Regions from separate parts of the Homo sapiens genome. Here region 2 is linked to region 1. Evidence: fine-mapped expression QTL. Tissue or cell type: thyroid. Region 1 holds a variant in brackets; the other region holds the start of a gene. All regions are shown on one strand. Distances are from middle to middle. Region 1 overlaps NOD1 (nucleotide binding oligomerization domain containing 1). Region 2 holds the start of LINC01176 (long intergenic non-protein coding RNA 1176).

What was found.
Region 2: it holds the start of LINC01176, and the variant in region 1 is fine-mapped to the expression of LINC01176 in thyroid (GTEx, PIP 0.97).

Annotation. Positions count from the first base shown.
Region 1 is chr7:30,422,626-30,428,012 of GRCh38, reverse strand. NOD1 (nucleotide binding oligomerization domain containing 1) reads left to right here. Exons shown (of 14, transcript NM_006092.4): 14 at 2,303-3,486. The coding sequence ends at 2,375. Among named protein-coding and RNA genes, the nearest start is that of LINC01176, 34 kb to the right of the region's middle. The variant G/A (reference allele first, on the strand shown) is at 2,133.
Region 2 is chr7:30,388,328-30,393,714 of GRCh38, reverse strand. It overlaps LINC01176 (long intergenic non-protein coding RNA 1176), which reads right to left and starts at 2,830. Exons shown (of 3, transcript NR_108081.1): 1 at 2,680-2,830. RefSeq lists an enhancer at 2,030-2,648.

The sequences.
Region 1 (5,387 bases):
GCGAAGCCCAGCCTGCCCAGCAGCCTGGGAAGCACTGGAGGGCACTGGAACTGTTTGCATGGGTGTTTGCCCTCAGGCCACTCCGTTTCTGCTGATTCTTAAGTTTTGAGGACAGCAGGCAGAGGGGGAGAGGAAGGAGACTGCCAGACTACAGAACAGTTTGCAGAGCACAGTTGGCTTCCACTTTTCTCTGTAGCTGGTCAGGCGGGTAGTAAAGACCTACAGTTGCTTTAATTCTGTCAAGTTTCAAAATCTGCATTGCTTCCCTCTTGAGGGTCACCATTCCTACACAAGGAACCATTTTAGTAGGGCCAGGAGACTTCAGCTTCAAGGCCTGCACTTGTGTCAGGGTGGAGAGGGGAACTGGCCACCAATTCAGAGAGGGCAGGACAGGCGGCATGGGTGCTGGTCTTGGGAGTGTCTTCACTTAGGTCCCTGGCTTGTTCTGGGAGCCTCCAGAGCATGCTCCTCTGTGTGTGACTTCATGGGACTGGGCTCTGAGAAGGCTGTGGCTTTGTTGGCCCTGCCAGGGACTGCCACACCAGGCCACAGGGTTGTGGTTGAGCTGGCCGGGGAGCCACGTTCAGGGAGCAGCTCTGCTTGGAGCCAACACTTACAGAGTAAGCCTTCTCCTTGGACTTGTTAACTGTACTGACACTTATTTCTACCTCATTCCTTTCTGAAAATAACTTGGAAGTCTGAAGTCCCTTGATGAGTTCTGTCTTTAAGAACAGAAATTAGAGGTGAACAATGAACACTGTAAATTACAGAAATGTATCCCACTCCAGTATAACAGCTTTCTGTGAGGCTATCTCCTCCAGACTGTGGCTCTGGGAGGGTGGGGCCTGAGTCAAGGTCCTAGGGACTAGTGCTGTGTCTTCATTTATTCCTTGAATAACGAAACGCTTGAGCATCAGGGACTGTGCTAGCACCAAAAATCCAGTGGTGAACAACATGGCTTCATGGGTTCACTGTCTAGAAAGGGAGAAGCACATTAAAGAAAAAATCATTTGCGTAATTATTTAATTACAACTGTGATGGGTACTATCACAAAGGGGAAGGCCAAGAGGGAACCTGATTTAGATGAGGTTGCAGGGAAGGCCTCTCTGAGGAAGCAGCACTTACACTAAGCCATGAAGGATGAATAGGAGCTAGTCAGCTGAGGTGAGTATTCTGCGTAGGGAACAGCATGTGCAAAGGGTCTGGGGCAGGAGGGAGTGTGGTGTCCTGGAAGAACTGCCAGAAGCTGCTGTGCCCCAGGGTTCAGACAGTGTGGAAGAGGGGACTACAGGAGGCTGAGGAGATAGGCAGGGACTGGACCATAAAAGATCTGTGGGTCATGATGTGCATTTTGGTCTTTATCCTAAAAGTGATGGAAAGTCAGTGAACAGTTTGAAGCAGGAGAGGCATGTGATCAGATCTGCAATGCAAAAAGACCAATTCTTGGCTCTTCTAGGAAACTGAATTGGAGAAGGCCAGAGTACGTGGAAATGACCTGTCAGTAGGACATTGTACTGATGCAGGGAAGAGATGATGGGTGCTCAGACCAAGATGGCCGGCCAAAGACATAGAGGTTCCAGGGAGGCATTCTAGATTCTTAGGAATTAGGGGAGAACTTTGTGATACAAGGAACATGGGGATGAGAAGGAAGGTGTCCAGGTTGACCCCCAGGTTACTAACCTGCTCAGCAGGATGAGAGTGGTCCATTCACTAAGCCAGGGGACCCTAGGAGGTGTGGCTACTTTGAGGTGTGGGGGAGAGGTCCAAGTGAGGATGCCAAGCAGGTAACTGCCTCCACGGACATACAAACAAGGCCGTGGCATTGATGAGATCGGGTGGGGAAAAGGGCTTAGCCCCAAACCTGGAGGAAATCTCAGATGTAGAGGTCACATGGAGGAGAATATAGGAAAGGAAATTGAAGTAGAGTGCTCAGATGCAGGAGAAAAATCAGCGCATATAACCAAGCCAAGGGGAGGGAGTGCCTCAAGAAGGAGGGAGAGGAGAGGTCAGGACAGCCAAAATCCTGAGGGCCAAGAAAGACAAGACCTGGAAAATGTCATTAAATTCAGGCTTATGGAGGCTACAGGTGACCTTAGTGAGACCCAGTGAACAGAGGGATGGCAGCTGGAGAG[G/A]ATCCATGCTAATATGAAGGAACTATCTGCAAAGGGTATGTTCCTTAATTTCAGGGATACATGTGTATTGTGTGATACACGAGTGTGTGCTATGAACACACCTTGGGAAGGAGTGTGCGAGGATCCTTAACATTTTACCTGTGTACTTTTGTCTTCCTCCTTTTCAACAGCCTAAATGGAAACCTGATAAAACCAGAGGAGGCCAAAGTCTATGAAGATGAGAAGCGGATTATCTGTTTCTGAGAGGATGCTTTCCTGTTCATGGGGTTTTTGCCCTGGAGCCTCAGCAGCAAATGCCACTCTGGGCAGTCTTTTGTGTCAGTGTCTTAAAGGGGCCTGCGCAGGCGGGACTATCAGGAGTCCACTGCCTCCATGATGCAAGCCAGCTTCCTGTGCAGAAGGTCTGGTCGGCAAACTCCCTAAGTACCCGCTACAATTCTGCAGAAAAAGAATGTGTCTTGCGAGCTGTTGTAGTTACAGTAAATACACTGTGAAGAGACTTTATTGCCTATTATAATTATTTTTATCTGAAGCTAGAGGAATAAAGCTGTGAGCAAACAGAGGAGGCCAGCCTCACCTCATTCCAACACCTGCCATAGGGACCAACGGGAGCGAGTTGGTCACCGCTCTTTTCATTGAAGAGTTGAGGATGTGGCACAAAGTTGGTGCCAAGCTTCTTGAATAAAACGTGTTTGATGGATTAGTATTATACCTGAAATATTTTCTTCCTTCTCAGCACTTTCCCATGTATTGATACTGGTCCCACTTCACAGCTGGAGACACCGGAGTATGTGCAGTGTGGGATTTGACTCCTCCAAGGTTTTGTGGAAAGTTAATGTCAAGGAAAGGATGCACCACGGGCTTTTAATTTTAATCCTGGAGTCTCACTGTCTGCTGGCAAAGATAGAGAATGCCCTCAGCTCTTAGCTGGTCTAAGAATGACGATGCCTTCAAAATGCTGCTTCCACTCAGGGCTTCTCCTCTGCTAGGCTACCCTCCTCTAGAAGGCTGAGTACCATGGGCTACAGTGTCTGGCCTTGGGAAGAAGTGATTCTGTCCCTCCAAAGAAATAGGGCATGGCTTGCCCCTGTGGCCCTGGCATCCAAATGGCTGCTTTTGTCTCCCTTACCTCGTGAAGAGGGGAAGTCTCTTCCTGCCTCCCAAGCAGCTGAAGGGTGACTAAACGGGCGCCAAGACTCAGGGGATCGGCTGGGAACTGGGCCAGCAGAGCATGTTGGACACCCCCCACCATGGTGGGCTTGTGGTGGCTGCTCCATGAGGGTGGGGGTGATACTACTAGATCACTTGTCCTCTTGCCAGCTCATTTGTTAATAAAATACTGAAAACACTCTTACGGGTTGAGTCTGGAGTTTTTGAAGGGACTTGGCTTGGTAAGCACTCATTGACTCCTGAGCCCCATCCTGATTCACTCCACAGTGGGGAAGGGGCTCTGGGGTGATGTGCTATGAGGAGAGCCTGATGAAGGCCAGGGGTGTCACCAGTTTGATCCTTCACAGGCCTCTCTGCCTACCAAGGGACAGGAAGCGGCTGTGGCAGCCTCTGAGGTCTCTCCATCTGGCCTCTGAATCTCTTCAGGTGGCTTCTCAGAGGAAATAACTTGTGAGTAGGGGGTGGCTGGTGCCAGGACAGGCCAAGTGGGCCAAAGTTCATGCCTTCATCACCATGCCATGGTAGAGCCCACGGGCCAGGTTCGACGTCCACTACCTTCCTCGGCTGTTCACTGCTGAGTGGCGGATCCAGGTAGGCCCATGGCAAGAAGCACCGAGCTGCCAGGGGCAGCACGTGACAGAGGAAGGCATGCAGGGCCTCCAACGGTCCACCTCTGAGTTCTTATGAGTCCAAGCCTGGCTTTGTAGAGCAGCCTGTTAGGAAGGGGACCGTTGCGGGGGAAATCCTGTACAGTTAAGCAACTACAAGGCGGCAGTTCCTTAAAGGCTCGATTTTGGTGGTTCCTACGAGGTCCCTCCCAACCCCAGACCTGAGTATTCACCTAATAATCACCCCAAGGCAGCCACTCTCTCCTTACTGCAGAATCTGGGCAGCAAATATGCCCAGAAAGAAGAAAGAAGGGAATGAGCATGGCCCACTGAAGGCCAAAGGGGGAGTACCACAGACCTCAGACTCGCCAAGTCTTACCACAAAGTTCACTTCTCAGCAGACAAAATTCACATTTTATTAAACTGCTAAAACTAAACCCTTGAGAGTCTAAAATTTACTCAGAAACTACCAAATGTTATTGCTTTTAGAGACTATCAAAATTAAAACTGCTGCTTCTAGGGAATTAGAATTTGTGTGGTATTGACTTAAATTCTATTTGGAAATACTTTGATCTTCCAGATGGCAAGTGGTAGATTTTCTATTCCTCCTGTAAAACTGAGACCAGGCTCCTAATTTGATGGAAAGGTTCTCTTATTAGAAACAGGTGAGCTTCTGAGCAGAAACATGGAGACTTTTCCTAATCAAGAAAAAGACAATTGAAAAAAAAAATTCTGTAAACGAGGGCTATATCTCTTTCTTTCCACAGGACATCTTGATTGATTTTGGGAAAGAAGCTACAGCTCCCATATTTCACACCTGCACTTGTGTCATGTCCATGCTGACATGGAACTTCTTTAAAAAGCCATGTGGAGCCACTGTGTGGCCATGTGGTATTAGCTCTCTGGAGCGCCCTAGCTGTGTGGCTTTGGAGCACTCTTAAGACGGCCAGAATCTTGATTTCCTCCTTGGAAAAACTGAGAGAATCTGACTCAAAAGGTTGTTGAGAGGATTAAATGAGTCATGGAAAGTAGCTGGCACAAAGCCTGGCACAGAGTCCTGCTCAACGTATGGCAGTTAGTTACTATCAAGCCAGCGGGTCTCATTTCCGCTCACCGTGGGACTCCCAAGTTGTCCCCTTCTCACTCATAGGCTCAGGGAACTTTCCAACAAGGTCCAATACAGGACTAGGAGTTCTCAAAGTAAAACCCCAAAGTATTCAACATCAAGCTTCCTGCAATATCCTACCTTTGTCAGTGAAAAGCATAGCTGTTAGTTTTCATTATTATTACCAAAGACCATACTGCCATTTAAGTGTCAAGTCACTGAACATAGGGGGCACCTGTGTCTTCACAGCACAAAAGAACAGGGCAGGAGCTGGCACCACCCTATGGAGCCAGGCCCATGAGCCTTTGCCAAGCGGGAAAGCGCTTTCTGCTCATCCATATTTTGGTTCACTTCCAGGTGGACCACAGGTCT
Region 2 (5,387 bases), 34 kb after region 1:
ATACATACACAAAAACAAAAACAAAACTCTCCACCCATTGCTTGCACCACATAAAAAAAGTAACTAGAAATGGATCATACCTTAACTGCAATACCTAAATCTTCTACAACAAGAGTTAGCAAACTAAGGCTCATGGGCCAAATCTTTATCTGTTTTTGTAAAAACAGTTTTACTGAACACCTATTCATTTATGTATTTTATGGCTGCTTACATGCTACAACAGTGACTATGACCTGTAAAGCCTAAAATATTTTCTATTTGGCCCTTTACAGAAAAAGTTTGCTCACCTCTTTTCTAGAAGACAGATCTTTGTAACTTTGGGTTTACCAAACATTTCTTAGATTTGACACCAAAAGCACAATTCAAAAAAGAAAAAGACCCAATAAATTGAACTTCCATCAAAATTTTAAATGTCTGCTCTTCAAAAGACATTGCTAAGAAAACAAAAGAACAAGCCAGACTGGGAGAAAATAGAAAATACTTGCAAGTCATATATATATGTATATATATATGACATATATATATATGTATATATATATGACATATATATATGTCGTATATATATATGACATATATATATGTGTATATATATGACATATATATGTATATATGACATATATATGTATATATGACATATATATGTATATATATGACATATATATGTATATATATGACATATATGTGTATATATATGACATATATATGTATATATGACATATATGTATATATATGCCATATATATGTATATATATGCCATATATATGTATATATGCCATATATGTATATATGTCATATATATGTATATATATGTGACATATATATGTATATATATGACATATATATGTGTATATGACATATATATGTATATATATATGACATATATATGTATATATATGACATATATATGTTATATATATGACATATATATGTATATATATACATATATATGTATATATGACATATATATGTATATATTTGACATATATATTTGACATATATATATTTGACATATATATATATTTGACATATATATATATATATTTGACATATATATATATATATATATAATTTTTTTTTTTTTAAAGACAGGGTGTCACTCTGTCTCCCAGGCTGAAGTGCAGCAGCACAATCATGGCTCACTACAGCCACAACCGCCCAGGTAGCTGGGACAAAAGGCGTGTGCCACCACCATGCCTGGCTAATTTTTTGTATTTTTTGTACTTTTTTTTTTTTTTGTAGAGATGGGGTTTCACCATGCTGCCCAGGCTTGTCTCGAACTCCTGGGCTCAAGCAATTTGCCCACCTTGGCCTCCCAAAGTGCTGGGATTACAAGCGTGAGCCACCACACCTGGCCAAAACCATATTTTTGATAAAGGATTTGTATCAAGAATATACAAAGAATTCTCAAGATTCAGTAAGAAAACATACAATCCAGTTTTTCAAAAATGTGCCAAAGGGTTGAATAGACACTTCACTAAAGAAAATATACCTGTAGCAAAGAAGAATATGAAAAAATACACAACATCATTTGCATTGGGAGAATGAAAATGAAAAACACAATGAAATGCACCGTATACCCAAGTCAAAACAAAAAAATAGCAAAAACATCAAAACTGCAGACAATATCAAATTCTGGTGAGGATGCCAATCACCTGGAATTTTCATACATTTTTGGTGGGAATGCAAAGTGGCACCACCAGTTTGCAAACCTGTTTGGCAATTTCCTACTAAGTATATATACATATTTATCATATAACTAGCTATCCCACTCCTAGGAATGTACTCAAGAGAAACAAAATCTTTGATTCACATAAAAACTTCTAGGTGAGGCCGGGCGCAGTGGCTGACGCCTGTAATCCCAGCACTTTGCGGGACAGAGGCAGGCGGATCATGAGGTCAAGAGATCAAGACCATCCTGGCCAACATGGTGAAACCCAGTCTCTACTAAAAATGCAAAAATTAGCTGGGCGTGGTGGCATGTGCCTGTAATCCCAGCTACTAGGGAGGCTGAGGCAGGAGAATCACTTGAACCTGGGAGGCGGAGGTTGCAGTGAGCCAAGATCGGACCACTGCACTCCAGCCTGGCGACAGAGCGAGACTCTGTCTCAAAAACAAAACAAAACAAAACAAAAAAACTTCTAGGTGAATGTTAACAGCAGCTTAACCACTGTCACTAAAAACTGGAACCAACACAAATCTTCCACTAGTAAATGGATGAGTAAACTATGGATTGCCACTCAGCAATTAAAAGGACCAAGCTGCTGAATACACATGACAACATGGATGACTCAAATGATTATGCTAAGTGGAAGAAGCTGGGCTTCTGTGATTTTCTATTCTCATTCATATTCAAGTTGCTTGGGTAACTTGTAATCTTTATCGCTTGCCACACATTATTCTTGAATAAGTATTTAACGGGAGTCTCCTGACGCTTGAGATGAGCCCTCTTCCAGAGAGATCTTGCTGTGCTTCTGCCGAATTCAGATTTTGAGAATCCTTGGCCCAACCAGCTATGTATATTTGAGAAGCTAATCTTCAGGGAAGCAGATATGCACAGGCCTTCCAGGGAAATTGTATTTTCTATTTCTTTTCCTCCCTGCTCCAAGAGCACCAAGGTAGCCACAGTTCATTACAACTGCTGGGAAGAGGGCACTGGGTTCAGCTCTGACTCCTCCTTACCTTTAGCTCCTTGTTATCCGATTCCTGTTGGTAGGGTCTCCTGCAAGCACACTGTCTTGCGTGGGCTCTGTGCTTTAACATGTTTTCTTGGCTCAGCCAGGCCACAGAAACAGCAGACAAGTGTTTGTGGTATCAGCAACTGCTGTCTCAGCACAGGCAGCTTTTTGTTCCAGTATTCCATTTCCCTCCCTGGTTATAGACTTTTATCCAAAAACTGGCCTGGAAGTTCAATGTTTTTTTAGTTCTTCACTTAAAAAAAGCCATTATTTTGTTTCTTCAAGTTTTCATAACCAGCCATCACCAGAAACTGGAAGTCCAAACATGCTCTTATTATTTAAGTAATTGGTGTACATGGTATAAATTCACGTCTTACAGAAAGATGCACAATGAAAAAAAGCAGCCTCTCCATGGCCCCTCCTCCCAATTCCAGTCCCACCCACTCCAAGTAAAGCAAAAAGTGCTTTAGTTGTATTTCTAAACGTTCCTACAACAGATATCTATTATTTTGCAATGGGAAAAATTTTACTTTAAAACATCCCCGGAACTTCTAATCTTCTGATACTTATAACCTCCATATCTCCAAGTAACATCTTTCTCTGTCTCTTGGTTCACAAACTCCTATGTCCAATATCTCCCACCTAAAAATGATGCCCTTTATAATCCCCTTGAAAAAGTGGAGTATACTTACCTCCTTGCCACAATCCCAATATGTTAGTCTTATTATTTCTTAGCTTACTGAGTGCCAACTATGTGCCAGGCAGTGCTTTAGAACCCATGGATACAATAGTGATCAAAACTAACAAAGTCCTTGACTTCACAGTGCTTACATTCTGGAAGAAGAGTGACAATAAACAAACATAAGATTTGTCAGGTAAATGTTATAGAAAAATAGAACAAGGTAAAGGAAACAGGGAATGTAGGGGTGAGGGCAGATTCATGAACTTATTTTGTATTGTATAGTTAAGGAAGGGCACTCAGATAAGGCGATATCTGAGCCAACGCAACAAAGGAAGTGAAAGAGGAAGCCTGTGGATACTTGGAGGAATTGTTATAGGCAGAAGGAAGAAGTGCCAAGGCCCTGACACAGGGGCTTGCTTGCCTGGTGTATTCCAGGAATAGCTTCAGGGGAACAAGTCAGGGGTGAGCAGGAGAAGATGAGCTAGAGAGGCAGGAGTGAGTGGCATGTACATGTCTGTGTGTATGCATACATGCACACTCCGGATGGCTGAGGGTATTTTAGGTCATGGTAAAGACCTTAGCTTTGGCTCTGAGTAAGATGGGAGCCAAGGGGGATTTTCAGCAGAGTAGTACCATGATCTGACGCTGTATTTGTTAACTTATAATGACCCCTATATTCCTTGATCCATCAACTTTAGACCAAAATGTTCATCGAAACATTTTTTGTAACAGTAAAATATTGGGGGAAATTATTTGACCACAAGCATTGTCTAAAGATATTATGGTACAACTACGAAATGGAATACTATGCAAATACAAAACATGATAAATGGAATGTTAGAAATGTGGTTCTAAAATACCACATATAATGTTATCCTGTGAATATATATGCATTGAAGAGTATGGAAAGACATATGCCAACAAATAAGGAGAAAAAAGTCTCTGGGGAGATGGGAAAAGGAGAAATATGAAGGTATTTTTTCCTTTGTGCCTTGTGTTTCCAAAAGTTCCTACAACACATATCTATTATTTTGCAGTGGGGAAAATTTTACTTTAAAACATCCAAGGCCAGGCGTGGTGGCTCACGCCTGTAATCCCAGCACTTTGGGAGGCCGAGGGGGGTGGATCACCTGAGGTCAGGAGTTCAAAACCAGCCTGGCCAATGTGGTGAAACCCTGTCTCTTCTAAAAATACAAAAATTAGCCTGGTGTGGTGGCGGGCGCCTGTAATCCCAGCTACTCAGGAGGCTGAGGATGGAGAATCGCTTGAACCCGGGAGGTGGAGGTTGCAGTAAGCCGAGATCGCGCCACTGCATTCCAGCCTGGGCGACAAAAGTGAAACACCGTCTAAAAAAAAAAAAAAAAATCCAAAAGATTAGAACCATAAACTAATCATTTTCTTTGTTTTAAGCTCAAAACAATTATATACAGCTCCTATGAGAATAATCAATACTGAATATCAACAAACTGACACGCATGTGGCTACCAAGTCTCTAGAATGACCCACTGAAATTCAGTAAAAGCTTAGAGAGCACAGGGTTAACTGCCATGCTGCACTATTTCCCCTCTTACTTGAACAAAGTAACACTTGCTGATGTAACTGTGCTTGCCAAGTTTTTGATAGTAAGTCCATCATGTCTCGTAACTTCAAAGAGTCTCAAAAGTGTCAAGATCCTAAGACAGGAAACTTCTGGTAGCTGACAATGTCTGGTTAATAGGGGGTTTGGTGAAAGCACAGGCAATGGGCACAGTAGAGAAGCAAGCAGCAAACAATGGAGATGTCCAGGACCATCCTGGCACGTGTTCTCCAGCGTTTCTAGGAAAGGTCTCTGGTCTAGTTATCAACCGCTGTGTAACAAACCATCCCAAACTTAGTGAGATGAAACAACAATCATATATCATCTTCTCTCACAATTCTGGGGATTGACTGGACTCAGCTAGGCAGCTCTCCCTCAGGTCTCTCATCCAGCTCTAGCCAGATGGTGGTTAGGGTGGAATCATCTAGAAGGCTTCCTCACTCACATGTTTGGT